Linked DNA regions of Homo sapiens. The protein of the gene in region 3 interacts with the protein of the main gene of each other region in a pairwise test. Each region holds a gene or a part of one and is shown on either strand. Other genes may lie near its edges. The genes, in order: SCN3B, SGMS2, VAMP1 and ARL13B.

Region 1 (8,365 bases), on a different chromosome or scaffold from region 3:
TCTTAAGGTCCCACACCTTATCTTTACTTACAATGTCACTTCCACTGCTCCTGTCTCTAATTCCTCCCCAGTAGTCTCAGTGAATGTGTTTCATTCCACAAGAAAACTAACATCTCCCTGAATAGCTCCCATTCAATTCTTTCTTCAGCAGAGTCATGTCATTCCCTCCACCTCAAGATCCCTGAATATCTAGGCTCTGTACTCCATCCTCTTCCTCAATCTCTGAGCATAATTAGCTAAAGTCCCCTCAAAGGAGAAGTGTCCTTAAGTCTAAAGACCCTCTTTTCCCTGGCCTGCCATGGCATTGCACCTTGCTGGGTCTCTTCCTATTTCTCTGACTCTTGGTTTTCTGTTCCCCTATTGATTCTGGCCTCAGCTCTTCACTGTTTCCACACTATTCTCACTCCCTTGTGTATTCATTCACTTGTGTCCTCTGTGAAGAGGACCTAATATCTGCTTGGCACTGATCTAGGTGCAGGACGGCAGCAGTAGACAGAACAAACAAGGCTGCTATCTATCACCAAGGAGAACCAGCCTGATGGGAGGAACAGAAAATAAGCAAGTACATATATTAAAAATAAGATAATTTTGGATAGTGAGAGAAGATATGAAGAACAAGAAACAGGGTGATGAGATAGAGAGTAGCTTCAGGTGAGGAAGGTAGCAGGAAACAAGCTTAGAGTGACCAGGGAATGTCACTCTAGGGTGAAGTCATTTGAGGCAAGACCAAAATGACAAGAAACCAGCCATAGAATGAAGAATGTTCCAGGAAGAGGGGACATCAAATGCTAAGGCTATAATAATAATGATGGGAAATATTAATAGTGGGGAAGAGTTTGATAACTATGAGGTACATTTCTTTAAAATTAAGTGTAATTGGAACATGGTGGACAAGACAGAGAGTGGTAGAAATGAGTGTGGAGAGATAGCCAGGGCACAAGGCCAACATTAGGCCATGGTGACAAGTCTAGATTTTATTTCAGTGTAGTGAGATGCCATGGAAGGGCTTTAAGCAAGAGAAGTTCCCATCTTTTAGAATACAAAGACTGTTCTGTCTACTCTTTGGAGAATAGAGCATATGGTTTCACCCATTAACTGTGAAGGGAGAATGATTATTAAATTGGGAGGCCAAGTCAACAACAATGAGAAAGGATTGAAGCCAAAATGGCAGAAAAGAGGAAGGGAGAGCTTAATTTAAATGATTTTAAAACTCTCAGAACAAGGCCAAGAGTACTTCAGGGAACTTAAGGTACTTGCAAAAGTGACTGAGAGTGACAGCCAAAAATCAAGGGAAACAGCAGGAGAATGAAAAGACTAAATGCTCCTATTTTCAATACAGGAGAGGGAAGAAGTGGTATATGAAAAATAGAGGTGAAATCCTGACAGTGACTATTTACAATGGGGTTGATAAACAATTAGAAAACAACATTATGAATATTAGCAATTCACATGAATAGACATAAGAAAAATTTTGTAAAGCTGAGCCAATTCCTGCTGTGGTAGTTGATAAAATTATCAGACTGAAAATATTTCAGTCTGTCTGTGTATTTCAGTCTTGGTAAGGCTTTCAATAAAGTCATAGAACCTCAAAGACGATAGGAACTTTAACATAATCTATTCCAAATTTCTAACCTTTACAGGTTTTCCTTCCTAAACATCCCAGCAGTTGTTTGGATAACAACTGCTTGGATGTAACGAAAGGTAATTTGTCCTACTTTGGAAAGGTTTGAAATGTATTGCTGAAAATCTGTTTTTGTGTTAGTGTAAGCCATTGATCCTATTTCTTTCCTGTGGATGACTAGATGTCTAATTCCTCTCACAGATTCCTTTTATTCTAAATTTTCAGAATGTCTCATGCTGTACATATAAAAAATAGGGAGCTATGTTTGGGTTTTATGATTGAGCAACTGTTCTAAAGAATTTTAATTAGGCCAGGTGCAGTGGCTCATGCCTGTAATCCCAGTGCTTTGGGAGGCCAAGGCGGGCAGATCACCTGAGGTCAGGAGTTTGAGATCAGCCTGGCCAACACGGTGAAACCCCCTCTCTACTAAAAATTCAAAAATTAGCTGGGTGTGGTAGTGGGCACCTGTAATCCCAGCTACTTGGGAGGCTGAGGCGGAATGATTGCTTGAACCTGGGAGGTGGAGGTTTCAGCGAGCCGAGGTCACACTACTGCACTCCAGCGTGGGCAACAAGAGTGAAACTCCGTCTCAAAAAACAAACAAACAAACAAAAATGTTAATTAGTAGCTCATTGTCAAGGTAGAATGAGGTCTTTAGAAGCAGGCCATAGGACTATCTCTTCTTTTTTTCTATTGGTTCTTTTTTTAAATATCCATGTGTGGATCATGTGATTGTCAAGCCTAGAGATGAAACAAGGGTAAAGAAGAGAGATATATTGGGTGATTGAATCTGAATTCAATAAAAGTATTAACACAGTGTGATAACTGGTTGAAACTAATAAATTTTAACAGCAATAAGTGCAAAGTTTCATAATAAAATTTCCAAAATTGCCTGTACAAGACACAATGACTCTGCAACAAGTCAAGTGAAGAATACTCAGGGATTTTAATTGAACATAAGCTGATTATGACTAAGATGTGGCTGTAAATGTATTTAACTAGTTATATCCTTCAAAGCAAATGTAGCCATAATTCCACTGGATTTATGCTGGTCAGACCACACAGGGACCATCAGTTCCTGTTCTGGACGTCACTTGGAGAATCATGCTGAGAAACTGAAAGTCCTTCTGAAAAAGCAGCCAGGGTGGTACAGGATTGGAAACTACTAGAAAATACATTGGAAGAAACTAAGGAAGAGTAGCCACAAACAAAAATGTCTTAGGGCGGATGTGAGGAAGCATAGCTCTTTTAAAGAGAAAACAGCATTAGGGCCACTTAATGGAGTTTGGAGGGGGAGGAGGAGTGTACGGAATTCAACTGAACATAAAGAACTTCCTTAAGCATCAGAAGAGGTGAACTTGTGATGTAGAAAGTTCTCATCACTAAAAAGATCAAGGCCAGGCGCGGTGGCTCATGCCTGTAATCCCAGCACTTTGGGAGGCCGAGGCGGGTGGATCTCCTGAGGTTGTGAGTTTGAGACCATCCTGACCAACATGGAGAAACCCCATCTCTACTAAAAATACAAAATTAGCCGGGTGTAGCAGCGTATGCCTGTAATCCCAGCTACTCAGGAGGCTGAGACAGGAGAATCACTTGAACCCGGGGGACGGAGGTTGCGGTGAGCCAAGATCGCGCCATTGCACTCCAGCCTGGGCAAGAAGAGCAAAACCCCGTCTCAATAAATAAATAAATAAATAAATAAATAAATAAATAAATAAAATCAAGTCCATTCGTCCGAAATGTTCTTGGGGGAAGTCACAAATTGGAAAAGCGGTTGAATTAGGTCAACTTTAACTTCCCATCCAAATTTAACACAGTATACATGCTTCAAGGCCTAGTCCTCCAAACAGCACAGAGTTTATGGCCTGGTGGCTCCCTGCCCAGGAAGATCCGACTGGGGACATTCTGTTACTCTGTGAGATGTCAGGAGGGAGCATTTCCTGCTTCTGGTCCACTCACCGTCAGCTGTTGCTCTGTTATTCCATTTTGGAATATCAGCGTTAAGCTTCCCCTTTTGGAAAGAGCAGAAGAGGAGAAAAAGGAAGCTGAAGAAGGGCTCTTGGATTACTCTTTTACTTCAGTTCCAGGCGTTCCTAATCTGTTATGTCAATTTGAGTTTATAGTTGAATGTAAAGTTTCAGGTTTCCCTTCCAGAGATGGGGCGGGGGCACTCAAACAGCTGCTAGGACTAGGGAGTGGCTAATAGTTGGAAGACGCCAAACACAATCTATCTGCTTTATTAAAAAGGAGTAATTAAAGGAAAAGGGAGAACTGCAAAGAACCTGGGGAAGGGAAGAGGAGTCCTCTTGGGCCCCCCTCCCCTTGCGCTGACATTTGGATCACCTCACTGAGTGATGAGGTGAAGACAGGAACAGGTGCGCCTCATCCCTACCCCATTTGCCCTAAACAGGGATTATCTTGCTGAGTTTGCTGTGTCCGGGGCCAATTAATCAAGGCTAGACAAAGGATAGACAGCGAGAACTGGAAGGCATGGGGTCTGGGAGGCGAAGCCAGGAACCGCGTACGGCGCGCCTTGCAGATGACATCATTGCCTGAAAGAGCTCTGGCCCTTCTCTTCCCGGAGCTACACCCGGCAAGTCCGTGCGGGAGCGGAGTGGGTTTGCCTGGAGGGCGTGAGCCGAGGGCGGCGGTGCGCCCGAGCTCGGGGGAGGTGCGGAGGCGCGAGAGGGAGACCTGGAGAGACCAGCGAGCGCGCGAGCAAAGATATCCCGGCTGGAAGTGTCTGCGCCGCTCCCGGCTCCGCCCCCGCTCGGCGCGGCGCTGGGCCTGGGAGGGGCACGCCCATCAGGGGGTGGGGAGTGTGCACTAGGGGGAGGGTCCGGGGCGGTGGTGGTGGCGGAGAGCCGCCTGCGCATGTCAGGGCTGACAGCACACACGGCCTGGGGGCCTAGAGAAGGGTTGCTGATCACCTGCCACCCAGGGTCGGGGCCCCGCACCATCCGGGGGCGAGCTCCCGGGAAGGGGCTCCGCCTCTACACCCACCCCCCAACCTCTGACATCGCCGGCCGAACGGGAGCTGCCGCTTCCTTCCCGGCCCCGCTGCACCTCCCCAGGGAGCCGAGGGCGGGCGTGGACGGGACCGACGTGGAACGCATTCTGTAGCCCAGACGGGCGGCCCCGGCGGCTTCGGGAGTGGGGTCACGCCCAGCTGGAGAAGCAGTTAGGGCGGACGAAGCAGGAGCCGCGGGGCTGGGAGGATTCCAGTCGGAACGCAACCGATCCTGGGGAGGCGAGAGGTGAATCAACCTGGACCCTTCCACAGCCTGGCTGCTAGGCCAGCAGTGCGACTCCCTTCCGAGCTGAGCTTACCCTGGGCGCAAACGAGCGAGGCAGGGGCGCGAGTGGAAGCTGGAGTTCCGGGGTGGGCGGGGAGGCGACTGTCCGTGGTGCTGAGCGCCGGCGAGAGCGGGCGCGGAGCGGCTGATCGGCTCCCTCGAACTGGGGAGGTCCAGTGGGGTCGCTTAGGGCCCAAAGCCCCCACCCGGCTCCAAAAGCTCCCAGGGCCTCCCCAGGCACCGGTGCTCGGCCCTTCCTTCGGTCAGAAAGTCGCCCCCTGGGGGCAGTTCGTCCCAAAGGGTTTCCTCGAAAGAATCTGAGAGGGCGCAGTCCTTGACCGAGGGAATCTCTCTGTGTAGCCTTGGAAGCCGCCAGCCCCAGAAGATGCCTGCCTTCAATAGATTGTTTCCCCTGGCTTCTCTCGTGCTTATCTACTGGGGTAAGTACCAGCACCTCGCCATGCCGGATGCAGGTAACAGTAACAATGCTAACAATAATAACACATTGATGTCGTTGGTGACAGAAAAGAGCTCTGGCTGGCTTGCCTCTGTGCGTATCTGCCAGACATGGAGATGGCAGGGGTTCCATGAGAGCTGGGATTTTGAGATGGGAAAGGCGCCTCCCCACCGCCCTTCCCCGCTATTCTCCAACCTCCTTTGGTGGTTCTTCCGCCCTTCCTCCAGTTTCCTGATCATTCCAAAGTATTTTTTCCCTTTCCCTTTGCTGAAAGGAAATGCAGTCACGTTCACGAATAAAAACCTCCTGTGTGGTTACATTTTATTTCTCATCAAGGAGTCTATACTCCTGGAAAGCTTACTGGGTCTTCAAATTCGTTTCTGTATATTAAAAAAAAAAAAAAACCATAAAAGCTGGATGCATGAATTTTGAGAGTGAAAATACTTTAGTTGCTCATCATCTTCTTAATTTTAACAAGGAATGGGAAGAAAACAGCCTTCAGCCATTTACTGCTATATATTAAATAAATAGGCAACTGTGAAATGCATCTTTCTTTTTCTTCTTCTTCTTTTTTTTTTGGTTTGTTTGTTTGTTGCATGAACCTGTGGAACTAAGATGCTTTGGTGTTAGGGGAGGAGAGCTGGGTTTTTGCCTTCAAAGGTGAATAGATTCTTGCTTGTCAGCTGTGAGAAACTGAGGTGACCTTCCCCCTCCAAATAAGGGAATCTTACACTTGGAACAGTAAAGGCTGAAGAGAGTGTCAGAGACGGTCTTGGAGTGCCTGAATGTGTGTAAAGGGGATTGATCTATGTGATAATGTCTGATTGTGTGATTGAGACAATGTTTTACTGTATGTAAATATATTTCAGTGTCTGGATGTGTGCACTAGCATGTGTGTGAGCATGTTGGCATAGACATCTGAATGCATGGGTGAGTGTAGTAGTATGTGTATGGCAGGGGTGGGGGTGGTAGTTCTGGGCATGTCTGCCTTGGTGTCTATGATTAGATCCTCAGATAAAATATAGGTTCTCTTCAGCAGACAGATTGCTTTACATGATCTTAGCTACCTTTCTCCGTGCAAAAATCAATACACAGGGTAATTGGACACAATTGTACCCACCTGCCTCCCTGAAACGAGGCATGTGAGCTTATGTTCCCATGGTTGGCATGAAACTCATCCTGCCTATACGGTGGCAGACATGCTGATGGGAGCTGCCTCTTTGCTTTAGTATTACTTTTTCAAGCCTCCAGGACTAACTCTAGCTGCCAGCATTATCTGGATTTTGCATGTGACCAGAGGCAGAGCCAAGCTTCCTGTCAAAATGCCTGATGAGACGGACTAGGAAGGTTGAGGAGGGAGGTAATGTCAGCCCCAAAGGCGGACTCATCACCAGCCATCCCCAGTAGAGTAGACCAGACCTGGAGATGGAGCAGCTATAATATGTTGCCAATGATCTCACCTGCCTTGAAGATTAAGGCTGAAATTTTCTCAGGGGAGGCTAAGGCTGAGGACACGAGGCTTAGAAGATGTTAGCCTGGCCAGATAAAAAGAGCGTCGGTAAAGCTGAAGTTGTGGATAAGGGTTGGAGTGAGACTCTGCAGAGACTTTCTTCCTGAACTCTAATCTAAGATTTTGAGATCCCTGCCTGAATTCCAGTGGAGGGAGAGAACATGCTATCATCCAAGAATCTTTTAACTAGAACTTGTGCAACCTGCATTGGAGTCTCAGCTTTGCCACTAGCTTACTATATAACAACCTTAAAGTGCTATCTGGTTCCTTCTGTGTAATGTTTGGAAGTTGGCACGGGTGATATCTAACATCCTTTTCAGCTCCACAGATGAATGGTAGAGAAATCTTTGAAGAATATTGCTAGAATTGACAGAGTGCCCATCCCCTCCCCGACCCCAAAAAACTTTGGAAGAAGTGTACACAGTATGCCCATCTTTGCCCATTCTCAGTTTCTTTGCAAACTGAGTGTTGTCTCACCAAACTGAAAAGCTGTGGAAGGGAAAGAGAAGTGGTTCAGGACACTTGGTTGTTAACTGTAAGAAAAACAGCTTCCCTTCGCCAGGCGCAGTGGCTCACGCCTGTAATCCCAACAATTTGGGAGGCCGAGGCGGGTGGATCACCTGAGGTCAGGAGTTCAAGACCAGCCTGGCCAACACGGCGAAACCCCATCTCTGCTAAAAATACAAAAATTAGTCGGGCATAGTGGTGCGTGCCTATAATCCCAGCTACTAGGGGGACTGAGGCAGGAGGATTGCTTGAACCTGGGAGGTGGAGGTTGCAGTGAGCCAAGATTGTGCCACTGCACTCCAGCGTGGGCAACAGGGCGAGACTCCATCAAAAAAAAAAGAAAGAAAAACAGCCGCCCTTCACAGATACAATTTCATTTGATTTGCATGCAATTCCAATATTGAACAATAATGCTGGGTTAGATGTGTTCCCCCTTCCAAAGTTGATTTTTTAATATGATGTACAATATGAAGGGAAAGAGTCTTTCCATTTACTTTCTGCATGCATGAAAAAAAGTTTCCTTATTTCCTTTGTTAAAGCATGTAATAATTTTTATTTTTTAAAGAGATTTAAAAAATAATACAATACAATAAATAATTAATACAATAAATAATTAATACAATAAAATAATAATAATTGTATTAAAAAAATTAATACAGACGATGTCTCGCCATATTGCCCAGGCTGGTCTCTAACTCCTGGGCTCAAGTAATCCTCCTGCTTCAGCCTCCCATAATGCTAGGATTATAGGCATGAGTCACCATGCCCAGCCTTTAAAATAAATAAATAAATAAAACCCTATATTTGCCTGTGCATCACAGTTTACAATGTAATTTTCAATACATTGCTTGTTTTGGTCCTCATGTCTATCCCTGAGGTAGTCAGGGGAAAGAGTGCTATTTCCAGTTTAGAGATGAGAAAATGAGCTCGGGGAAGGGAAAGGACTTGCTAGAGAACCCTTGTTTTCTGATTTC
Region 2 (8,261 bases), on a different chromosome or scaffold from region 3:
GAAACAGGTTTCTCCCCGAAAGGGAGTCTGGTGTCTTCTCCATTTTCTTTAAGGAACCCCAGGCTATTATAAACTAGTTTAGGTCCCTCATGCAGCAGAGGGTGAAAGAGAAAGGAGAGACAGCAGAAGTAAATGAAGAAAACAGAATCCAGTCAACTGAGAAGAAAAAATTTAAAAAACGGGCGCTAGGCATGGTGGTTCACATCTATAATCCCAGCACTTTGGGAGGCCAAGGCAGGTGGATCAACTGAGGTCAGGAGTTCAAGACCAGCCTGGCCAACATGGTGAAACGTCATCTGTACTAAACATACAAAAATTAGCTGGGTGTGGTGGTACGTGCGTGTAATCCCAACTACTTGGGAGACTGGGGCAGGAGAATCCCTTGAATCCAGGAGGTGGAGGTTGCAGTGAGCCAAGATCACACGACTGCACTCCAGCCTGGACAACAGAGCAATACTCCACCTCAAAAAAAAAAAAAAAAAGACAAGGTCCTGGGGGAGAAAAAAGGAATAAAAACATGAAGGCCTTTTAAATACAAACACATGTAAACGTACAGACACACATCTTGGATGGTAGTTTTCAATTAAGCTGACTTTAACCATTAAGTTCCTTTAAAAAAACAACTCTTTAAATCTCATTTCCATATTTCACGAACTAGGACAAATTGCCGCTATTTCAGAAGTACCAAGTATCAAACCAGAAAGGGCTTGATTTAGGAAACAAAACTCAGGCTGTCATGGTGGGAAAAAAAAGGCAGAACCCTAGCTATTGAAATGCAGTGTGAGGTGACTGCCTTTGCTTTCAGTTTGACCTGGCTAGCAAAAAGGTGGCTTTGTTATGTAAATAAAGCCCCTTAAGTAGTCAAAATTAAAATTCTTTCCTTTTTTTTCTTTTTTTTTCCTTTTTCTGGCTGTTTTTCTCCCCCCCATTATACCACCTTACCATACTACCTTTTTTGTGTGTGTCTATGAGAATTTAGCCACTTCAGTGGCCTTGTTCCCCATAATTTGGAACTTTCCTTCGGATTTGATCAAGTCGGAAGAAGTTGGTCAAACCCAATGGGAAAAAGACTGAAACAACAAGAAAAAGAGAAACAATAAAAAAAAACAGTTAAGCAAAAAAAAAATGATTGCACAACTTATATGATTACTGAGCACTCTAATGGTAAAGACATTAAGACCAGCTGGTTGTTGATTTTAACTTTAGCCAAGACAAACCCCAATTTAGTTATCTAGGGGTTGTTGGGTCTCAGGCTGAAGACTGCTTTCTATCCTAGTGAAGCAGCCTTGTTGTCTGGGGTGATACCTGAGGTTCATTGTCTCATGCAGAGGAAATCAAGGACATGGACACACAAGGAGTGAGGTTAAAAGCAGAGGATTAATAGGCAAAAGGAAAAGAAGAACTTTCTCCTGCAGAGAGAGGGGTCCCAAATGGGTTTCTGCTTCCTCAGTGAAATGCAGGTTTTATAGATGAGCTTGAGGAGGTGGTGTTTGATTTACATAGGGCATGAAAGATTGGTTGGACCAGGTGTGCCATTTGCATAAGGGTGCAAAAAGCTGGCCACCCCCACCCTAATGTTTTATTATGCAAATGGATTATCTTCCTGGCCCACACCATGTTGCCTGTTTCTTTACACATGGTGACAAAAAGGAAGATGGAGCCTACACGTTGAACATACCTGGCCCCCAGGTAGCCATTTTGTATTGGCACAGCTGCTGGCAGTAACCTGTGCAAGCTTCCAGCTTGCTTATCTATGTCTGCAGCTCAATTTTTCAGGCTGCTCTTCATTAGACAAAAGAAGTTTCTCGGGCTGCTTTCTGTTAGAAGGGAAGCCTTGCCAAGAACTCTTACCCTCACTATCTGCCTAAATAACTTCTATCTCCTGTGTCACTAGGAGCAGGAAAAAAAAAAAAAAACCTCATCTTCCCTGTTGGAAGGGAAACTCCGTAAAGGAGTTACCTACCTTCCATCATCATGGAAGCAGGAAAAACTTGCCTGCCTTGTGTTGGAAGCAACTAAAACTCCAAAAAAAAAAAAAAAAAAAAAAAGGTTGTACAGCAAAATAAACTTTAGATCTCAACCAGAATTGGGGAGATCAGGGATTCTCTGGAATGGGTGCTTCCAGGCCTCAGCAAATTGTCCTATTGGTTTAAGCCATAAAGATAGCCCAAGGTTGAACCAAGCACTGATAGGAGATTTGTTAAAGGTCAGGGGCACCTCCACTCAGAATCCCTCTGTGGTTACCAAAATGTGAACCCTGAAAATCTGAGACAGGTCTCAGTTAATTTAGAAAGTTTATTTTGCCAAGGTTGAGGTTGCACACCCATGACACAGCCTCGGGAGGTCTTGAAGACATGTGCCCAAGGTGGTCAGAGCACAGTTTGGTTTCATACATTTTAGGGGGATATGAGACATCAATCAACATATGTAAGATGAACATTGGTTCGGTCCGGAAAGGTGGGACAACTCAAAGTGGGGAGAGGCCTTCCAGGTCATAGGTAGATAAGAGATAAATGGTTGCATTCTTTTGGGTTTCTGATTAGCCTCTCCAAAGAAGGCAATCAGATATGCATTTATCTCCATGAGCAGATGTGTGACTTTGAATAGAATGGGAGGCAGGTTTGCCCTAAGCAGTTCCCAGCTTGACTTTTTCCTTTAGCTGAGTGATTTTGGGACCCCGAGATATTTTCCTTTCAAAATAGGAATGAATATGTTGTGATCATTATCTTGATGACAAACATTTCGTCCCAAGATTTGTTCACACATGATGAATGTGCTATGTATATTTAATCTTAATGAAATCCCAAGGAAAATATTAATTTTAACACTAATAACGATAAATGGGCATTGTACTCACATAGTGTTCTTACTCCCAGGGGCACAAAGCTCTTCACAATTAATTATTTCAGTCATTCTCATAGCAGTCCCATGAGGTGGGTGGCTGAGTGTGTCCTCTTGGAAAAAAAAAAGAAAAAAGGTTACTAATTGGATTTTCTTCTGTTCCACATTCTGTGTTCTAGAACCGAGTAGCTACCTTATAAAGACCATCTGTACATCCACTGTGAAATGGAGTTTCAAAATCACAAGCTTCTTTCCCACATGAACATAAGACTAGGAGCACATATGGAAGAGTAAAGTTGAAGGGAATTTGGATGATGATTTGGCAAGATGCTGTAAGTGGATTAGGCAAGGCTGCTAAAGAGAGACAGGAAATGGCTGTGTTAGTGCTTCGGACCTCCGTTAGAAGTAGCAGTTCATGGTGTTGAAGGTTTGTTGTTGAAAATACCTTCCTGAGGCACCTCTTCATTGTGCTTATTCTTCCCACAACATTGTGCCAAGACACTGTCAAGCCTGGGCCTGTCAAAGCCTGGGATGTCAAAGGCCTGGGTCTTTCTCATCCTGCTGTAATGTATTGATAGCTGGGGGCTCTGCAGAAGGACAAGGGAAAGGTGAGATGTTTATAATTCTCAGTAGTACCTTTTAGCTAGTCTCATGCTCCCTTATCCCCCATTTCTCTACCAGGCCAGCTTTCCACATGCTTTTGCTTTCTCAGAAACAGAGCCTGTGTGTGGACACATCTTGTCCCTGGAGCAGGGAAACAGTACAGCTAAACCTCTCACTTTACCTAGTGATCAGCTCATCCCTCTCCTTCCTTTCACAATATGCCATTCAGTCTTCTCCAGTAGTCTTTCATCATTTTAGTCCTGTCTCTTTGGTTAGACTGCAAGCTCTTTGGCTGAATGTTCAGGTCAGGTGTTTTTCACTCCTTTTAATTTGCCCTACATAGCCTTCAGCACTGGGGCATTTAGGTGCACAGTAAACACTTGTGGTTTATCTATTTGCCACCCATAATTGTAAACAGACATTGCCTGTACATATTGACTGCCATTTTCGCTGTGTTTTTTTTCTTTCATTAAATAAAGGCTTAGCTGTCATCACTTTGAGTTTGTCCTCCTCAGTTTTCCCTGAAGTTACCCTGAAACGGGGAGGCAGGGGAGGGGGGAGGTCCTTTAAAATGCAGTGGATTGTGCTTAAGTTGAGCAGTGTATCCAGGGAGAGGACTAATTACGAGGTTTGAAAACCTCATCAGGTGGCTGGTTTCTGTAGCAGGACTAAAAGACTGCTCTCCTAAATTGAGAACAGCTGGGGCTGTGTGCTAGCAAGTATAAAAGAGGTGGCAGTGGTGCCCCGTGTCCGAAAGAAGTGTGTGCTCTCTGGAGCCTGTGGAGCTGAAGCCAAAGGTAGTTATCCTCATCAGTGTCGTGGTGGGTGAGTCCCCTGAGCTGGTCCTCTGGAGGCCCGTTTCTGTTGTTTGGTAGAAATTGTGGTAGCTGAATCAAAATATTGTTAGTTACTAATTTATCATGCCAATTGTAGTGAGGTATTTTTATCCTTCAAATAAATTCTACTTGTTACCTGCGTGAGAGACATAGCTAAGGCTTGGTGTATCTTTTCAGAGTTATTTTGAAGGCTGCCAGCTTTTCTTGTATATGGTGTGCGTCTCTGAATATAAAAGGATAAACTGAGGCTGTGCCATTTTAAAAATCTTGAATGTGTTGTTCTTGAATCTGTTCTTAAAAGCGGTCACTTAAAAAGACTTCTGTTTTTTAATTAGAAAATAGAAAATTGACTATTTTGACAAATGAAGAGTAACAATTATTCAATGCATATAAGCCTCTTACCAGTTTTTTATTCTTTCTTTATGGCTCATAGAAAATACAGTCTTAGGAAGGATTGATGTGATCTCTGGGTAATTTCTAGCTTATTATGACTTCATGGTTAGCAACAAGTGATAGTGTCTGATGAAGTGTTTGCAATGTTAGGTCCTGATTTTTCTTTAAGGAAATTTAAAGGGAACTGATTGTTAAAATGTTCCTATTTCTACCAATACTAGCTCAAAAAGAGACAAGAATTCCAAGATAAAACTGTTCAGTATTTTGTAAATAAACTTGATCTCAGCAGCTTTAACTAGGTTCTGACGTTACATTTATAAAGCAAATGGCTTTGGTATTTGTTTCCTTAGTTTAAGAATGTTTCTGTTTTGGATGGTTGACAGTTGGACAAGCATAGTTTCTGAACATAATTTTGTTTTGCTTTTAGGTGGGATAGTAACATCTTTTTGAGGGAAGAATTGGCTTCCTTTCTTGAAAGTGGTGAAGGTACAGCATATAGCTGCATGGAAGAAACAGTAATCGGATGGCTACCTTCTACATTTTGTATTAGGAAACAAAGTCCATTGTAAGAGTCCATGTTGATCTTGGAAATAGAAGGATTGAAAAAAGCTAAATTTCCACAAAGAACAAGAACTTGACCATCTCCTTTTTGATCTGAAGACTAGGGGACAATGGATATCATAGAGACAGCAAAACTTGAAGAACATTTGGAAAATCAACCCAGTGATCCTACGAACACTTATGCAAGACCCGCTGAACCTGTTGAAGAAGAAAACAAAAATGGCAATGGTAAACCCAAGAGCTTATCCAGTGGGCTGCGAAAAGGCACCAAAAAGTACCCGGACTATATCCAAATTGCTATGCCCACTGAATCAAGGAACAAATTTCCACTAGAGTGGTGGAAAACGGGCATTGCCTTCATATATGCAGTTTTCAACCTCGTCTTGACAACCGTCATGATCACAGTTGTACATGAGAGGGTCCCTCCCAAGGAGCTTAGCCCTCCACTCCCAGACAAGTTTTTTGATTACATTGATAGGGTGAAATGGGCATTTTCTGTATCAGAAATAAATGGGATTATATTAGTTGGATTATGGATCACCCAGTGGCTGTTTCTGAGATACAAGTAAGTAAATCTAATGTTTTGAGGATTTGTCATGGGTTTGTTTTTGAGTGAATAGATGGGTTATTGAGATTATTTTTCCTTTTTTTCCCCCAATAAATTCAGTCTTACCCAAACATTTGATGAAAGAAAACAGTAGAAAGCTCTACCACATTGAATAAATTCAGTCACTATTCAGTAAGTGTTTGATGAGCAACTGTGTATGAAAGTGGCAGTGTACAGCAGTACTGTGGTGGATGACTCAGAGTTGATGAATTTAAGGTGCAGTTCCTGACTTCCAGCAACTTGGTGCTATGGTATTTGTATGATAAATCAAGAGGCTTGGAAAGGAATAACATTCACTCCCATCATGTTTGTTATTTCAGGCTCTTGACAAGTGGGAAAAGGAATAGGTTGAGAAACTTTTTTCTCCATTACTCATAATGTGATGTCTGTATTGGTCTAGAGTCAATAGCCTGCTTTAAGGTTTGCCTAGATTCAATTCTCAAATTTTACATTTCTGTGGGGCTGGGTGTGTGGATGTGGTTTCGGTTTTTTGTTTGCTTGCTATCTAGTTACAAGTGTTTAAGAGACTGAGTTTAGAACCAGATCCATGCGGTTTTGATTTTTAGATTTCTAAAGTAAACTTGCCCTCTGATTTTCCTTGGACACCACAAAGGAGCTCATGGTTCACTGGGTTCAGCCTCCTCATTTTTGGAATAGTAGGAAATCAAGAAGAAATAAGTCAGGTACTTTTGCTTTGAAGACACTTAAGAATTGGACATAGCCCTGAAGTGGTTATTTCTGCTTCTCTATGTGAATTCTGACTCCTAGTCCATAAAAACGAAGGCTCCTTAATTCCTCCTTTCCTCTCATTCATCATTTAGACATTTGTTTTCCACTGGGATGGTAGTGATTAAATCACTAAAATATGATTTTGATCAAAACACTGACCATAATACAGAGTTTAAAAATGTAATGTATGCTAACTTGGATACAATCTGAACATTCCAAGTCAAATAGGATTTCAGTATTAATGCCACAAGATCATTCTTAGAGAATTTTGGCTGTATTGTTTTTTAGTTGGTAACACTTTTCATTACTTGATCAATTATAGAACTCTCAATGTGGTATATCCACTCAGACCCTAACACTGTTACTGTTTTGTGATTAGAGGAATTCAGTCTATCTTTGTTAAAGAGTTCCCCAAATGCAACTTTGCAGTCTTAAAACCTTATTCCACAAACTGCAGTCATTCCTAAGCATTTTCCTTAATATAACTCTTCATGTGTTTCCTTAATATGCTTAAGTAATAGACTTAGCTATGAGTTGTCTTTTACTTAAAAAAGTAACCTGCTCCTGAAATTGTTAAAGGATGCTTTATGCTAAAAGCAAAAAATGTATTTATGAACTTCAGTGTTTTTCTCTTTAGTGTCTGGAAATTAACACAATGTAAGAGCCTGCTAAGGCGGCAGATAATTTGCTTTCTCCTTTATTTAGAGCAAGGTTTTATTGATATATGTGTGAAAAGAGAAATTGTCCAGAATCTGGTAAGTATGTGGACTCCACCCTGAAGTACAGTCTTTCCCTCAATTTAGCTGTATTTTCATCTAGATCCTTTTTGAATTTTCATTAGATAGTTATTATTAACTGCCTCTACCTACCACCTTAGATTTTCAACATGTCCAAACACACGGTCACATAGCCAGACCATAAATTTTAATGATATCCACTGTTTCAGTCGCAATTCACACAAGTTTGCCTTTTTACATTTGAAGTAGAATTGGATCTTACATTTTAGTAACTAGTAGAATAATTTTTATAACCTGTTTTGAACATCCCAGCTGAATGAGGAATGTTGCTTGCTCTCTCTTTTAAAAGCACCTTTCAAAGCTATGGGAAAAAGTCATTAGCACTAGTTCTTTTTCTAAATAAGGCTGTAGAGTACATCTTTCACCTTCTAAGTTGGTTTTCTGTTCTGAGTACAGCTGAACTCAGAATGCTGGAATGAATGTAATTGACTCATAATAATTTCTGCTTATTACTTCCCCTTGTCTAACAGCATGGAGCACAATTCAAAACAGCACTCTGTTGGAACCTGAGGTTGGATCAAAGGCTAAATTGGTTTTCCCTTAACCAAGGGAAGAAACTCAGCACTGTTTATTACCTGCTCCTTTTTAGTACCAGGAAAGGCAGAACTAGAATAGCAAGCCTTTAAAGAAATTCCTTGGGGATAAATAAATACTCTCATCTACTAGTCTAGGTGGTGTTCCCTTCTATTTTTTTTTTGACCCCAGAAACCTTGGAATATTCTTAAAATAGCTGTTGGAAACAGACAGCTGAAATATATATTTATACATAATTCTTGAAATTAGAAGTTCCAAATGTTATCTGAATTAGACCTTGATTCATGTCAGAACCACAATCTTAGGGAAAACTTAAAATATGTCACATTACCTGAAACTGCCTGTTTTTTCAGAAGTCTT
Region 3 (7,202 bases):
TTAGGAGGTGAGTTTAGCCTCCATGTTTTGGGACATGGAGAGGAGTTTGTCTTGAAGACCACACACTAACTTTGAGTGGTACAGAATGAGAGAACATTCTCTGTGTGTATAGTACAGTAAACCAAGATCTCTCTTTGGGATGTAAGTAACCAAGGGAGTCATCTGAGACTGTCAAATCCAGAAAAGGAAGGGACAGAATGTCTATAATGCATGCACATTGAGGACAATTTCTAGCATTTTTGCTTCCTGTCTATGCTCTTGGAACAGTTTCCATAACTAATGTAATTGCTTTGGGCCCCAGATTCTATCTAAGTGAAACCCCCATTTTCTCTGCCAAAAACAAAGCAAACAAACAGTCCTGACTCACTCCACCTACATAGACTTTGCCTTTGGTGATTTTCCAAGCTGCCCTTATGGCAGCCCTGATTTCCTCATCTTGTGTGAAGCATAACCAATAACTGGGCATATAAACCAATAACCATAACCAATAACTTGAATATAAAAAGGGGTGAGCTGACAGACATTACAGTGTACAGCCTCCCTCCTGGCTCCCTTCACGGACTGGCATTGAGTGTCTGTGGCTTTTCCAGGCGCACGGTGCAAGCTACCAGTGGATCTACCATTCTGGGGTCTGGAGAATGGTGACCTTTTTCTCATAGCTCCACTAGGCAGTGTTCCAGTGGGGACTCTGTGTGGGGGCTCCAACCCCACATGTCCCTTCTGTACTACACTAGCAGAGGTTCTCCATGAGGGCCCTGCCCTTGCAGCAAACTTTTGCCTGGACATCCAGGCGTTTCCATACATCTTCTGAAGTCTAGACGGAGGTTCCCGAACCTCAGTTCTTGCCTTCTGTGCATCTGCAGGCTCAACACCATGTGGAAGCTGCCAAGGCTTGGGGCTTCCACCCTCTGAAGCCACGGCCCGAGCCCTGCATTGGCCCCTCTCAGCCACAGTGGGAGCGGCTGGGACACAGGGCACTAAGTCCCTAGGCTGCACACAGCATGGGGACCCTGGGCCTGGCCCACAAAATAACTTTTTCCTCCTGGGCCTCCAGGCCTGTGATGGGAGGGGCTGCTATGAAGGCTTCTGACATGGCCTGGAGACATTTTCCCCATGGTCTTAGGGGCTAACACTAGGTTCCTTGCTACTTATGCAAATTTCTGCAGCTGCCTTGAATTTCTTCTCAAAAAAATGGTTTTTTTCTTTAGTACTGCGTCTTTTCTTCTGCCAGATACCCTAAATTATCTCTCTCAAGTTCAAAGTTCCACAAATTTCTAGGGCAGGGGCAAAATGCTGCCAGTCTTTTTGCCAAAACATAACAAGAGTCACCTTTGCTTCAGTTCCCAACAAGTTCCTCATCTCCATCTGAGACCACCTCAGCCTGGACCTTATTGTTCATATCACTAACAGCATTTTTGTCAAAGCCATTCAACAAGTCTCTAGGAGGTTCCAAACTTTCCCGCATTTTCCTGTCTTCTTCTGAGCCCTCCAAACTGTTCCATCCTCTCCCTGTTAACCCAGTTCCAAAGTCGCTTCCACATTTTTGGGTATCTTTTCAGCAACACCCCACTCTACTGGTACCAATTTACTGTATTAGTCTGTTTTCATGCTGCTGATAAAGACATACCCAAGACTGGGAAGAAAAAGAGGTTTAATTGGACTTACAGTTCCACATGGCTGGGAAGGCCTCAGAATCATGGCGGCAGGTGAAAGGCACTTCTTACATGGCAGCAGCAAGAGAAAATGTGGAAGAAGCAAAAGCAGAAACCACTGATAAACCCATCAGATCTCATGAGACTTCGTCACTATCACCAGAATAGCACCGGAAAGATGGGCCCCATGATTCAGTTACCTCCCCTGAGTCCCTCCCACAACATGTGGGAATTCTGGGTGATACAATTGAAGTTGAGATTTGGGTGGGGACACAGCCAAACCATATCAGCGGGGAAATGCCATTTAGGACAAGGCTAGGCCATATGTCCCTGTAGCCATCATGGCAGAGGACTTGTTTGAGTTGAGTCAAAGGATAGCCCCAGATGAGATGTCTTGATGCCATCCTGGATGTCCCTGAACCCCATCCAAATGTTGTTGCAGAGTCTTTCATCTTTTACTTCTTGCCTCTATGGTTTGTCTCCCTACTTCAGATTGCCAAGGAGCAAGAATCCATTCTAGTTTTGTATAGCCTAATCATAATTGTTTAAGTGGTTTGGGGTGAGGATGCATGTGAGTCCTTTCTTTTTGTCTGTTTTTTTAGAGATGGGGTCTCGCTATGATGCCCAGGCTGGCCTCGAACTCCTGGGCTCAAGCGCTCCTCCCACTTCAGCCTCTTGAGTAGCTGGGACTACAGGTGTGTGCTACCACGCCCAGCTCCTTTCTTGTCTTGGTCACTTTGTGTACTCTGCACATGTCTTTCCACAGGTCTGCTCCAGCTCAGCCACCTGCTGAAGGGACAGAAGGGACTGCCCCAGGTGGGGGTCCCCCTGGCCCTCCTCCTAACATGACCAGTAACAGACGACTACAGCAAACCCAGGCACAAGTGGAGGAGGTAGGTAGATAGCTGTTTCTCTGAAAGTTTCCAAATCTAGGAGTTTGGAAACAAAAGGGAACTTCTTATCTTTTCTCCTTTTTTCGTAGGAGAATAGTCAAAGGCCCTGAGAGGCAAAGCACCCTTTAGAGTTGCACAGGGCCAGACTTGTGATTCTCTGGTTGTTGTCCTTTCCTCTGTCTCTGGCAGGAAGCTTAGCTGCTTTGTTTCTGTGCCCTCCTCAGGTGGTGGACATCATACGTGTGAACGTGGACAAGGTCCTGGAGAGGGACCAGAAGCTGTCAGAGCTGGATGACCGAGCTGATGCCTTGCAGGCAGGAGCATCACAATTTGAGAGCAGTGCTGCCAAGCTAAAGAGGAAGTATTGGTGGAAAAACTGCAAGGTGAATTTTCTTGTCCCCTCCTCCATCTTTTCCTGGGCTTCCACTGGTAGAAGGCAAGAAAACCCTCAGCTTCTACATTTCTTCCCTCTAATGGTGCAGGATCTCTCTGACCAGCATAACGCTTGGGAGGAAATCTGGAAAGCCTCCTCTTGAGATTGCATTACCCAGAATTGGCCACCAGGGTAGGCTAGAGTATTTAGAACCGCTATCAGGGAAAAAGTGATACCCTGAGGAGTTTGGAATGGTTAGTTAAGGAGCTTTACCCCAAAGGAGTTGCCTGCAAAAAATTTCACCTGTCTCATCCTCAGACACACCCAACATCAGCACAATGGCTCAGGCATATATACATACACACACACACACACACACACACACTATATATACACATATGTATATATACATATATATACATTTATATATATATATACATATATATACATTTATATATATATATACATATATATACATTTATATATATATATACTTTTTTCTTTTTCTTTTAAATCAGCTTTCTCAGATTGAAATATATATTTTTAAATAACTGCAACTTTTGAGAATGAGCTGAACACTTCACAGTGAAAATTGAACTAATTGGTTAAATATCCAGAGTCTGTATCTCTATTGGAATGCCTTCTAAAGCCCCAAGACACCAGGAACTAAGCAAAAAGGAGCTCAATGCAGGTCCTGTGATGAATCTGAAAAGCTACAGACATACTGTGGTTATGATCCCCTGGGAAGCAGAAGGGTAGGGCCTCTCTAAGAGGCCTGCAGGTCTCCTGGGTGATGGGTGGTTTTTTCCATTGTCCCAAGGATGGAAGGAATTCTGTTTCCCACTAGAGATGTGGCTCTTTTCCTCATTCCTGAAATCCAAGGGCTCATTTTTTGTCCATGTTTCCTCAGATGATGATCATGCTGGGAGCCATCTGTGCCATCATCGTGGTAGTTATTGTAAGTAAGTATCGCTGAAGTTGCTGGTGGGGTGAAGAGGTGGGAAGGTCCTGGAGTCTTCTCCCTGCCTGCCTGCCTGCCTGGGGAGTGGGGCTGCTCTGACTGAGGTATGGAGACCGCTGCTATGGGATCGTCACCTGGTTCGGGACGGGGGAAGGGCAGAGACAAGGGATTTCTTTGATGGACAAGCCTTCCCCCTGCAACGCATTGCAGGGAGATGGCGCCTCCTGTTCTGAGGAAGTGGGGCTATGCTGTGTGTCACTGGCTTGGGTTGGAGGGAGACCATGGGGATGGGGCACTTAACAATGGAGAGACCTGAATGTCTGGTAACTTGGTGTAATTCACCCTCTTGTTTTCTCCTGTCTCTTTCTCTTTTCCGTCTGGGACTTCCTGATTCCTGTGTCCAGTCTACTTTTTTACTTGAGAATGTACCACCCCTTCCCTGTTGTCCATTGCCATCCACATTCATGTCCTCTGCCCTCTGTTTGCTCTCTCAACACACTTCCCCACCCACCGTCCTCCATTCCAGCCCAGGCTTCTCCATCACCCATTCCTCCTTTTTCGTTGCGTTCATTTGCACTCTGTCCCTCAACACTAGAAATGCTGCTCGTGGCACAATCTAAGTCATTACCCGAAGAGCAACAGCTGGCGCCTCCTCCCTGCCTGCTTTTTCTGTACTCTCAAGTTCCCCCAAAGCCCCAAAGAGTTGGAGGCCAAGGGAAGGGGCAGGGAGGGGAGTGGCTGAGGCGAAGTACCCATGAAGCTGCCCAGACTTGGGAGGAGAAGAGTATCGGTGCCCATGGTGACTTCTAGAAAACCTGGCCACTGGTAGGAGCTAGGGAGGGGCTGGGAAGATGGCAGCTCACTCAGTACTGCCTGGTCATGTGGAGCTTTCCTTCCTGGACCAGGCCTGAAGAGGGTCCTGGGGGTGGACCAAAGTCCAACTTGGTTTCAGTGCAGTACCCTTTTCGAAAGTAAAAACTTGTTTTTTGTAGTTATTTCTAATCTGTTCGTCCAGGATTTTCCGTGTCTTTGGGGATCTTACAACTTTACTTTGTTCTCCAGAGGCCTGGAGAACACTTAGGGATTGTGAAAATAGCAGGACTTGTTTCCATCCTAGAAGCAGTCCCATGTGCTTCTAGCTGGAAGGAGCTTTCTCTTCTTTACATTTTCTACAGCATTCTGTATGAGGGCACCAAATAAATCCATCTAGCTGGTAGTTTTATCTAGCCAAATAATTTAACCTAGCTCCCAGTTAATTGTTGGCATAAAGAGAGAGATTGCCTGTTAGTTATAGAGAAACAGTGAGTCAAGTGCTTAATTTGAAAGTAACAAGCTCAGAGGAAGCCACTCCTTGCCCTCGTTAAAGAGGGTCCTGTTCCTCTCTTCCTGTTGATGAAGGAGCGTGAGGGTGTTAGCAGTGTGAGATCTTTGGACACCCATGGAATCCTTTCCTCCACACCACCCGTGCACTTGCCAAAGACAGGGATGAGGCAAGTGGTTCTTCCTGGGGCCCGGCCGATCCTCAGGATGCAGAGAAGTCATGTAGACCCACCAGCCCCACCTTGGGGGGAGGCGTGCCAGCCTGTGTCAGGTGTGCTTGTGTATTGCTGTGCTGTCATGGGGCCCTCTCCTTGAGAGCCGCCTCTCTGTTCTTCCTGTAGTATATTCCCCTTTGAACCACCCTTTCCTGTCTGAATTCTACTTTGCCTCCTTTCTCTTCCTCCTCTTTGCATGGTTTGTGTGTATAGACAGTGGAACCTGAGGATGGGATCTGCTCAGCCTATCTTCGGGGCAATTGCTGAGCTTCAGGATGGGCTATTAATGTGGGATAAGCCCAGGTGCAAGGGGAGGAGGGCAGGCTGGGAACAGAGCGGAGAATGCCCATGGCCCTTTATTCCTTCTTCCCTCGGTCCACGAACAGGAAGAGGCTGAGGCCATGCTGGGCAGGGTCTGGATGCCCACTTTCCATGCAGCAGCATTTCATTGCTCAAAACCATCCTTCCTTTCCTTTCGCCCTTGTTTCCCACATTCCCTTCGTCCTGCCCAAGGGCGGGACTGAAGAGCTGGAAGAAAGCAGTCAGTACCCTCCCAACGGCCCCCCTCGAAGGTCTCCACTCTCCTCTGGGCTCCTCCTTGCCTAATGCAGGGGGTCACCGCTGGAGAAGAACCACCACTGTCCTCGATGTGTCCCAAGCCTGGAGCGAATCCGTCCTCTTGGCTCTCCCAGCCCTATCACAGGAATCATTCCTGGGTTTCTGTCCCTCTGAGGCTCACCAGGTGTAGTTGGCCTTGTTCTTTGGGGGTATTAGCCCTTCTACTTTCTTTCTCACCCACCCTGTACCCTCTTCTGTGTGTCTCTGCTATCCCCCTTTCCTCCCACCACCCATGTGCATGAGCAAATGTGCAACAAAACCCTGGGACTTTGCAGTCAAATGAAGCTGAGCTTCCCACATCCCGTTCTTCGGTTTGCCATGAGACGATGTGGGGTTTCCACTGTGTGTCTGTCATCACCTCTTTGTCTTTTTTTCCTAACCCTGATCTCATACTTGTATAGAGTAATAACAACAGTTGTACTTCCACCAAAGGCATGTGGCATATTTACCAATGTCATGTATTCTGAACAAAGGCAAAAAATACAAATTCCTACCATTAAACTGGCTTGGTTGTTGTTTGGGTTGGAGTAGCTGTGGGGGCTTGGGGAAGGGTGTCGTTTCTTTCTAGTAGTCTCATGTCGCTTTAGGTCAGCTGGGCTGGCTTACACGCGCTGTGCGGTCTTCATGGAGATGGGAGCTCTGTGTGTCAGCACAGGAAGTGGTCTCCCAGCGTTCAGCCTGAAGCAGCCCAAGTCCTGTAGGTGCTGGTAAGAGGAAGTGAAGACAGGAAGTTGCGTGGGCATCTCACACTGGCAAACAAGCACAGGTTCCCTCAGGCCTCTTCCATCTGCCTCCTGTGCTCCTTCCTAGGTCCTTGGCCTGCTTGTCCTGTCCCAGGGGATGTGCCCAGATAAGGCTGTCAGTGAACACCCCCTTACCCCCTTTTCCCCATCATCCTCACGTACAGTTTTGGTATGCTGAGTTCCACCGTATTGATTAGGCACATTTTAGAAACGAATAAAAAGGAGAAGTCTCTCCTTGCAGCTGAGGGAGTGAGGCATTTGCAGGTATCCTGAACCTCCCAGCAGTCACCCGAGGGAGCAGAACCCTAATTGCAGCTGAGGTGCAACTGAGATGGAGCCACGGGGGTGCCTCTGAGGGCCTTTGTTTCATACTTAAACACTTTGCAAGTTGGAGCCGCTAGGCTTGGTGACAGGGCTCAGTTGGGAC
Region 4 (8,261 bases), on a different chromosome or scaffold from region 3:
AACACATCAAATACATTTTTAAATCCATAAGTTCATAATGATGCCTCTCAAAATAAGAAAAAGTACCAAAAAGCCTGAATAGCCAAAGCAGTCCTAAGCAAAAAGAACAAAGCTGGAGGCATCATATTATCTGACCTTAAATTATACTACAAGGTTATTGTAACCAAAGTAGCATGGTACTGGTATAGAAATAGATGAATAGATCAATGGAAAAGAATAGAGAACCCAGATGATGGGTACAGCGATGCTAGGAAAATTCAATTGCCATATGCAGAAGAATGAAACTGGAACCCTGTCTCTCACCATATACAAAAATTAACTCAGGGTGCATTAAAGACTTAATGTAAGACCTGAAAAATACTGGAAGAAAACTGATGAAACTCTTCTGGACATTGGTCTAGGCAAATAATTCATGACTAAGACCTCAAAAGCAAAAGCAACAAAACCAGAAATAGACAAATGGGACTTAATTATTAAGTAAAAACTTCTGCACAGCAAAAGAAGTAATCAATGGAGCAAACAGCCTGCAGAATGAGGGAAAATATTTGCGACCTCTTTATCCTATAGGAGACTAATAACCAAAACTTACAAGGAAATCAACAACAAAAAACAACCCCATTAAAAATGTGCAAAAGACATGAATAGTCATTTTTCAAAAGAAGACATACAGATGGCCAACAAGCATATGAAAAAAATGCTCAATATGCCTAATCAGAGAAATGCAGATTAAAACCACAATGAAATACCATCTCACACCAGTCAGAATTTTTAGCTGTTACTGAAAAGTTAAAACATAGCAGATGTCTGCGAGATTGTGTAGCAAAAGGAATGTTTATACACTCTTGGAATGTAAATTAGTACAATCACTATGGAAAACAGTATGGAGATTTCTTTTTTTTTTTTCTTTTGAGACGGAGTCTCGCTGTGTTGCCCAGGCTGAAGTGTAGTGGCGCGATCTCGGCTCACTGCAAGCTCTGCCTCCCGGGTTCATGCCCTTCTCCTGCCTCAGCCTCCCGAGTAGCTGGGACTACAGGCGCCTGCCACCACGCCCGGCTAGTTTTTTGTATTTTTAGTAGAGATGGGGTTTCACCGTGTTAGCCAGGATGGTCTCGATCTCCTGACCTTGTGATCCGCCCGCCTCGGCCTCCCAAAGTGCTGGGATTACAGGCGTAAGCCACCGTGCCCGGCCAGTATGGAGATTTCTTAAAGACCTAAAAAAAGAACTACCATTCAGTCTAGCAACCTCACTACTGGGTACCTATCCAAAGGAAAAGAAATCATTATACAAGAAAAGATATCTGAACTCAAGATGTTTATCACAGCATTATTCACAGTAGCAAAGGTAGGGAGTCAACCTAAATGTCCTTCAATGGATGATGAAAGAAAATGTTTGTGTGTGTGTTTTGTATATACATACATAAAATGGAATGCTATTCAACTATTTAAAAAAGCATGTTTTTTCCAGCAACGTGGATGGAGCTGGAGGTCATTTTTTAAAGTGAAATAATTCAGAAACAGTCAAATCTAGCGTGTTCTCACAAGTGGAAGTTAAATAATGTGTACACATTGACATGGAGTGTGGATTAATAGACATTGGAGACTTGGACAGGTGGGAGGGTGGAAGGGGAGTTAGAGATGAGAAATTAATACCTACAATGCACATTATTAAGCTTATGGTTACACTGAAAGCCCAGACCTCACCACTATGCAATATATCACCACTATGCAATACATTTACATCACAAAACTGCACTCATAATCCTTAAATTTATAGGATTTTTTTTTTTTAAATCAACCTGATCACCTTCGGAGGTTGCTACGCCATTAATTCATTATTTTGAAAATCAGGAAATAAAGGCAAAGGATCAAACATTTATCTTGACTTTGTGAATTTTAAGAGGCACCAAGTAGTTGGTGAAAGCTTATTTTTAGCAAGAATCCTGCTAGTAAATGCAGAAGGAATATGGAACTATAAAGTTACTGTTTCATAAACTTTGGTAAAATAATAGAATTAAGTAAAGGTCATCAATGGCTGCTAAAATCATTAAGTGAAAGATTAATGAGGAACTTTATTTTGGATGGATCAGGCTAAATGTAAATCCATTAGTTAATTTTATACCACCAAAATAGGACATTATATAAAAGTGATATTATATGCCTCCCTAAATACAAGCACCACCTACGAAGTATGCTTGCCAAAAAGATTTCATCTGAAACTCATCCAGCTTCTTACCACCAGATACGGGAAATATAGGATAGGTATGTTAAATAAGTTTATAAGGAAGATATTAGCCAAATCCCAAACATGGGAATTCTAAAGAAAAATTACAAATGTCATGGGAGGAAAAGAGTCATGGGGGTGGTAGTGGGGAGGGCAGGTATAATATAGATTCAAAAAGAGTTAAGTGATAAGTAACGTATATTGGACCTGAATTTAAACATAACACTTGTAAAATGATATTGGAGAATATTGAGTAAATTGAGTAATATTGAAGACTTACTGTTAATTTTGTTAGGTGTGATAGTGGTATCATGGTAATGATTTTTTAATATCTGGGTGAAGTAATGTGATTCAGGCAGCAAAATAGAAGGTATGTAGATTTTAATGGTAACTTGGGAAATACAAAAAAAAAGAAGGTATATAGATAAGCAAGAATGACACAGTTTTGATAATTTTTAAAGATAGGTGGGAAGGGTTCGTTAGATTTCTTAGTCTATGTACTTAATTTTTTTTTTAACCTAAAGAGTCTGTCAAACTTTGAGCAAGGCAGTATTTTATTAAACTTTTAAATCTATGTTATATAATTAAATAGTGGTAAATTGTGGTAAATCCTGTTTTTCTGTAGAATATATTGGTTTTCCATTTTGTTGGTGTCCAGTTTGTCTCTAATTGAGTACAATTTTTTTTTTTTTTTTAATTCCCAGTGCTTTGCCAAGTATATTAGAAGTGGCCTTGGGTCTTCAGTAAATTGCACATTTATGTGGACACATTCACACATTAGAATTGTAGATGAGCTCAAATATTAAAAGTTCAGAATGAATATTTGGGCATTTAAAACATTACAGTTTGTATTTTAAGAAGATAAGAATATAATTTATGGATGTGACCTGTGGAAATTAGTCCTCTTATTTTTCTGTTTTGTAGCTTTTTCTGTTTTGTTGGCATATTGATCTCTTGTTTATGTTTTCTTGACACTTTATTTGATTTTCCTTTTATAGGCCAGTACTTAAAAACTATTTTAGCAATAATAAGGGAAAAATGACAAAATTGATGCTACAACATTTTAAGATACTAGTGTGTTCTGTAATCAGTACATTTAAAACTTGGGAATCAAAGAATGTGGTCAGGCCAGGCATGGTGGATGATATCTGTAATCCCAGCACTTTGAGAGGCTGAGACTGACAGATCACTTGAGGTCAGGAGTTCAAGACCAGCCTGGCCAACATGGCGAAACCCAGTCTCTACTGAAAATACAAAAAATTAGCCTCGCGTGGTGGCACACAACTGTAGTCCCAGCTACTCTGGAGGCTGAGGCAGGAGAATCACTTGAACCTGGGAGGCGGAGGTTGCAGTGAGCTGAGATTGCACCACTGTACTCCAGCCTGGGAAACAGAGCAAGACTCAGTCTCAAAAAAAAAAAAAAAAAAGAATGTGGTCAAAATATCTTTAAGTTTCCATCCAATTATATATATGCTGTATAAAAGTACTTTAATTATCTTTCAGGTTGGCAAATAAACAAGATAAAGAAGGAGCTTTAGGAGAAGCTGATGTCATTGAATGTCTATCTCTGGAAAAATTGGTCAATGAGCACAAGTGCCTGTGTCAGATAGTAAGGTTTTTTTTTTTTTTTTAATTTTAATTTTTTGTCCTTTCAAATAGGTTCAGTATAACTTGGTTTTTATAAAAGTGATAGCAATTAAAAGGCAATGTTTTCAAAGAATTTTTTGTAACCTATGAAATCACATTCCCATTTTTCTGTTGATATAACTTAATACCATAATATTTGTTGTCTATTTCATTGTTATTTCCATGAACTATCTTTCCATGATTTCAAGGAGCTTCACATTTGCGTTTTAACATAGCCAACACATCATGGCATGAAATTTGTAAAATGGGAAAGAAAAGTGTAAATACAAAATTTAAACATATGAGAGATTCATAATGAATTTTGAAAAATTATTTTGCTGGGCATGGTAGCTCATGCCTGTAATCCCAGCACTTTGGGAGGTTGAAGGGGGCAGATTGCTTGAGCCCAGGAGTTTGAGACCAACCTGGGCAACATAGTGAGACCCTAGCTCTACAAAAAATACAAAAACTAGCTGGGTGTGGTAGTGTGTTCCTGTAGTCCCAGCTGCTTGAGGGGGCTGAGGTGGGAAGACCACTGGACCCTGGGAGGCTGAGGCTGCAGTGAGTTCTAATTCAGCCACTGCACTCCAGCCTGGCCAACAGAATGAGACACTGCCTCTAAAAAACAAAAAAAGAAAAGATAAATCATATCAGGAGAGATGTCATACAGTCTTAAGGAAGATGAACAGTGGATTTAATAATTTATTTTGGTTTCAAAAAACATTAGGCTGTCAATCTTATGGATGTTTACTGCTGTATATTGTAGTATAAGGAATTAAAACTTCCTGGCATTTTTAATCAATAGAGATGTCTTTTTATGGTAGTTAAATTTTTTCTTCTAATATTATAAGTGGCACTGTCACCCTCTTCTTTATAATATCTTACATAGTGTACAGATGTTATCTGTAAAATATTTTAAGTTCTATATACTGATGTTAATCATTGCAGTGCTATGTTTTGGAAGTTAAATAAGCAGATGCTTCATATTATTAACTTAAATGGCTTAATTTTGATTTGCCATTAATTATACTTAATGGTTTATGAATAGATTTGTGTGGAGACCTTTTAATCTTTTAGTCAAATAAATTTCTGTTTTAGGAACCATGTTCAGCAATCTCGGGGTATGGAAAGAAAATTGACAAGTCCATTAAAAAAGGCCTTTATTGGCTGCTACATGTTATTGCAAGAGACTTTGATGCCTTAAATGAACGCATCCAAAAAGAGACAACAGAGCAGCGTGCTCTTGAGGAACAAGAGAAACAAGAAAGAGCTGAACGAGTGCGAAAATTACGAGAAGAAAGGTAAGTAGATTAATTTTGTACCACAGTGCATTTGAAGGATCAAAAACATAACAATTTTATGAATCAGTTGTTAGTTTTATCTGTTCAGTTTCTTCTTTCTGTGTGAAGGAAGACACTAGGTAAATTTTGTATTTCTGTGGATCTTTTTCTGTACAAGTTTGGGTGGTAGATTCCTAATTTTTCTGGTGGTTGTATAATAGTTAAATTTACTCCTTACGTAGCCATTGTCTTCCAGAGTTTTAAATTTTTGTCTCTGATTGCTTGTGGGTACCTTAGTGCAGTGGTTCTCAATGCACAGGGTAGTTTTTAACATTTGGCAGTGTCTGGAGACATTTTTAGTTTTCACCACTAGGGGAAGGAGTGGAGTACTACTTGGAATCTATTGGGTAGAGGCCAGGGATGCAGCTAAACATCCTATGACACACAGGACAGTCTCCCACAACAAAGAATTATCAGGCTTAATATGTCAATAACGTTGAGACTGAGGAACCTTTTTAGTTTCAGCAAGGATAGAAGGTGAGCTGCTAGAGAATCATTCAACTCAAGCAAAATCTGATCCATAGTTGCCTTCCATCTGGCCTTTTATGTAGTTTAACATAGTTGTAGCCCAGTGAGCAAGAACTCACTACCCTTGGTGACCCATTATGAGGTACTTCCTTATACCGTGAAGGAAATCCTCTGATAACTGGTATTTTTCATTTAATTCATCAATAGGACTTAAAGAAATATTTATAGAAATGACTCTCTATCCCCAAGTGCTCAATAATATGAGCGTGCCTTTCATCTAGGGATCTCTTTATATAAAAGACAGATTAGAGTGAATGATTTTGGCAGCTGTTGATACAAGGTTTTAGTTCCTGTGAGAATATTTGTTTTTTTCTTAGTATGTATTTTTATCATATAAAGCTCAGTACAACCAATCATGCATGTTAAGTATACCTTTTATATATAATATTTATAAAAATTAAATATATGGCCATAATTATGTGAAAACTCCTTTTCCTCCACTAAGAAAATAAAAACAGAAGCAACAAAAAAATTGAGTTGGATAAAAGAAATCTAATGTTAGTAACTTTTTAAATGTTTTTGCCTTTTCCATAATGATATTCTAGATCATGTTATGGCAGGCTTTTCCAATACTCCTTACCCTTTCTTTCTTTCTCTTTATCCATGCCAGTTGTGGTCTGAGACCTCTCCTCTTGAGGAGACCTCTTCTGTTGAGCCAATACTCCATAATTAAAAGCAAATTGACATTCGGAGACGGGTGATTAAAAACAAGCTTTTTACTTCACTAAATCCAATCTAATTGGTTCAGATAGTCATTTCTAGTGTTTTTGAAAAACAGTAAAACATGCCAAGTAAAAATAATATATTAATACTGTATTCCTGAAGTTGCTTACTAATAAATAAAATTAATAACAATGACTATCCTATGAGAAAGTTAATTCACAGAGTGTTCTCACATATATTACTTTATCTGACCCTTGATACAGCTCTATGAAGTGGTTATTTTTATTCACATTTGTGGGAAAGCTAAGGCTCAAAAGATCCAGGTCCAAAGTCACAGAAGTAGTAAATTGCAAATCTCCAAATCTTGGCTTCCTAGGTTCATAATAAAAGGATATGTATTTCCATCTAGAACACAGCTAGTAAATATTATGGTAATGAACATTTACATTGCTATACCATACTTACAGTCCAGTTAAAGATCCACAATACTTGTGTTTCTTTCTTTTTTTTTTTTTTGGTCTCTGGCTGCTCTTTTTTTTTTTTTTTTTTTTTTTTTGAGGTGGAATTTTGCTCTTGTTGCCCAGGCTGGAGTGCAATGGCGCAGTCTCGGCGCACTGCAACCTCCGTCTCCCAGGTTCAAGCGATTCTCCTGCCTCAGCCTCCCGAGTAATGGGGATAACAGGCATGCACCACCACACCCGGCTAATTTTGTATTTTCAGTAGAGACAGGGTTTCACCATGTTGATTAGGCTGGTCTCAAACTCCTGACCTCGTGATCCACCCGCCTCGGCCTCCCAAAATGCTGGGATTACAGGCGTGAGCCACCGCACCCGGCCGGCTGCTCATCTTAATAACATTACTCATCATGTATGGAACAACATTACTATAAATCACAGAGATAGTAAATGTTCAGTGGTAACTAATATGGAAATACTTATTTAATCTGAATGATACATATGGTAACTTATTTTTATAGCCACTGAACACTATTATGGAAGTTATTATCTAGTTCAAATATGATACACAACTTGATAAAATATTTTATATTACTACTCTGTCATATACTTCTATAGAATCAATCTGTAGATATTCTAGTCTTTTATTCTTTTATACTAAACAAGAAACATGTTTATGCAGAAATAAAAACATAGGTTGAGTTGAAGGAATGTTTTCCTAGTTTTGTAAGAGAAGACTTAGCCCTTAAGAAAAGAATTAATAAGAATAATTACTATTTGGCTGGGCGCGGTGGCTCACACCTGTAATCCCAGCACTTTGGGAGGCAGAGGCAGGCAGATCACAGGGTCAGGAGATCGAGACCATCCTGGCTAATAGGGTGAAACCCCGTCTCTACTAAAAATACAAAAAATTAGCCAGGCCTGGTGGCGGGCGCCTGTAGTCCCAGCTACTCAGGAGGCTGAGGCAGGAGAATGGCGTGAACCCGGGAGGTGGAGCTTGCAGTGAGCCGAGATGGTGCCAATGCACTCCAGCCTGGGCGAGAATGCAAGACTCCGACTCAAAAAAAAAAAAAAAAAAAAAGAATAATTACTATTTGTTAACACCAGTAAAGAGGACAGCATTGATTTTGGAGGGTAATTAATAAGTTGATCAGTAATACCCTTGGCACATGGAAGAATAATTGCACTGTTGATATTAAGAAGTCACTCATAGGAAATGTCATTTTTATCAGCATTTTTTTAATTGAAATGATTAGTCTTTACATGGGAGGAAGCAGCCTCTTACCTGCATAAGGATTTTTGAAATGCTCTCAGTAATTCAAAACCATGTCCAGATGTTTAAATTACTACATGTAATAGCCTTATACCTATTGCAGTTTTCTTTAACATGGTTCAGCACTTTCTCAAAGGAAATTTCAATTATTTTTC

What was found.
Region 1: the proteins of VAMP1 (region 3) and SCN3B interact in binary tests that used the Homo sapiens proteins (3 or more experiments, as listed by UniProt).
Region 2: the proteins of VAMP1 (region 3) and SGMS2 interact in binary tests that used the Homo sapiens proteins (3 or more experiments, as listed by UniProt).
Region 4: the proteins of VAMP1 (region 3) and ARL13B interact in binary tests that used the Homo sapiens proteins (3 or more experiments, as listed by UniProt).

Annotation. Positions count from the first base shown.
Region 1 is NC_000011.10:123,650,739-123,659,103, reverse strand, and holds the start of SCN3B (sodium channel regulatory subunit beta-3 precursor), read left to right. Parts: upstream 1-4,479; 5' UTR 4,480-4,878; exon of another isoform or gene 4,879-5,277; 5' UTR 5,278-5,302; coding exon 5,303-5,357; exon of another isoform or gene 5,358-5,419; intron 5,420-8,365. UniProt on the Homo sapiens protein: Regulatory subunit of multiple voltage-gated sodium (Nav) channels directly mediating the depolarization of excitable membranes.
Region 2 is NC_000004.12:107,890,210-107,898,470, forward strand, and holds part of SGMS2 (phosphatidylcholine:ceramide cholinephosphotransferase 2), read left to right. Parts: intron 1-2,857; exon of another isoform or gene 2,858-3,449; intron 3,450-5,100; 5' UTR 5,101-5,344; coding exon 5,345-5,799; intron 5,800-8,261. UniProt on the Homo sapiens protein: Sphingomyelin synthase that primarily contributes to sphingomyelin synthesis and homeostasis at the plasma membrane.
Region 3 is NC_000012.12:6,461,568-6,468,769, reverse strand, and holds the end of VAMP1 (vesicle-associated membrane protein 1), read left to right. Parts: intron 1-1,665; exon of another isoform or gene 1,666-1,719; intron 1,720-2,418; coding exon 2,419-2,545; intron 2,546-2,769; coding exon 2,770-2,928; intron 2,929-3,828; coding exon 3,829-3,880; coding exon of another isoform or gene 3,881-3,894; exon of another isoform or gene 3,895-4,283; coding exon 4,284-4,300; 3' UTR 4,301-5,800; coding exon of another isoform or gene 5,801-5,811; 3' UTR 5,812-5,927; coding exon of another isoform or gene 5,928-5,938; 3' UTR 5,939-6,533; downstream 6,534-7,202. Other genes in the region: TAPBPL (tapasin-related protein isoform 1 precursor), read right to left, coding at 6,621-6,736. UniProt on the Homo sapiens protein: Involved in the targeting and/or fusion of transport vesicles to their target membrane.
Region 4 is NC_000003.12:94,031,607-94,039,867, forward strand, and holds part of ARL13B (ADP-ribosylation factor-like protein 13B), read left to right. Parts: intron 1-3,724; coding exon 3,725-3,830; exon of another isoform or gene 3,831-3,835; intron 3,836-4,945; coding exon 4,946-5,148; intron 5,149-8,261. UniProt on the Homo sapiens protein: Cilium-specific protein required to control the microtubule-based, ciliary axoneme structure. May act by maintaining the association between IFT subcomplexes A and B. Binds GTP but is not able to hydrolyze fit; the GTPase activity remains unclear.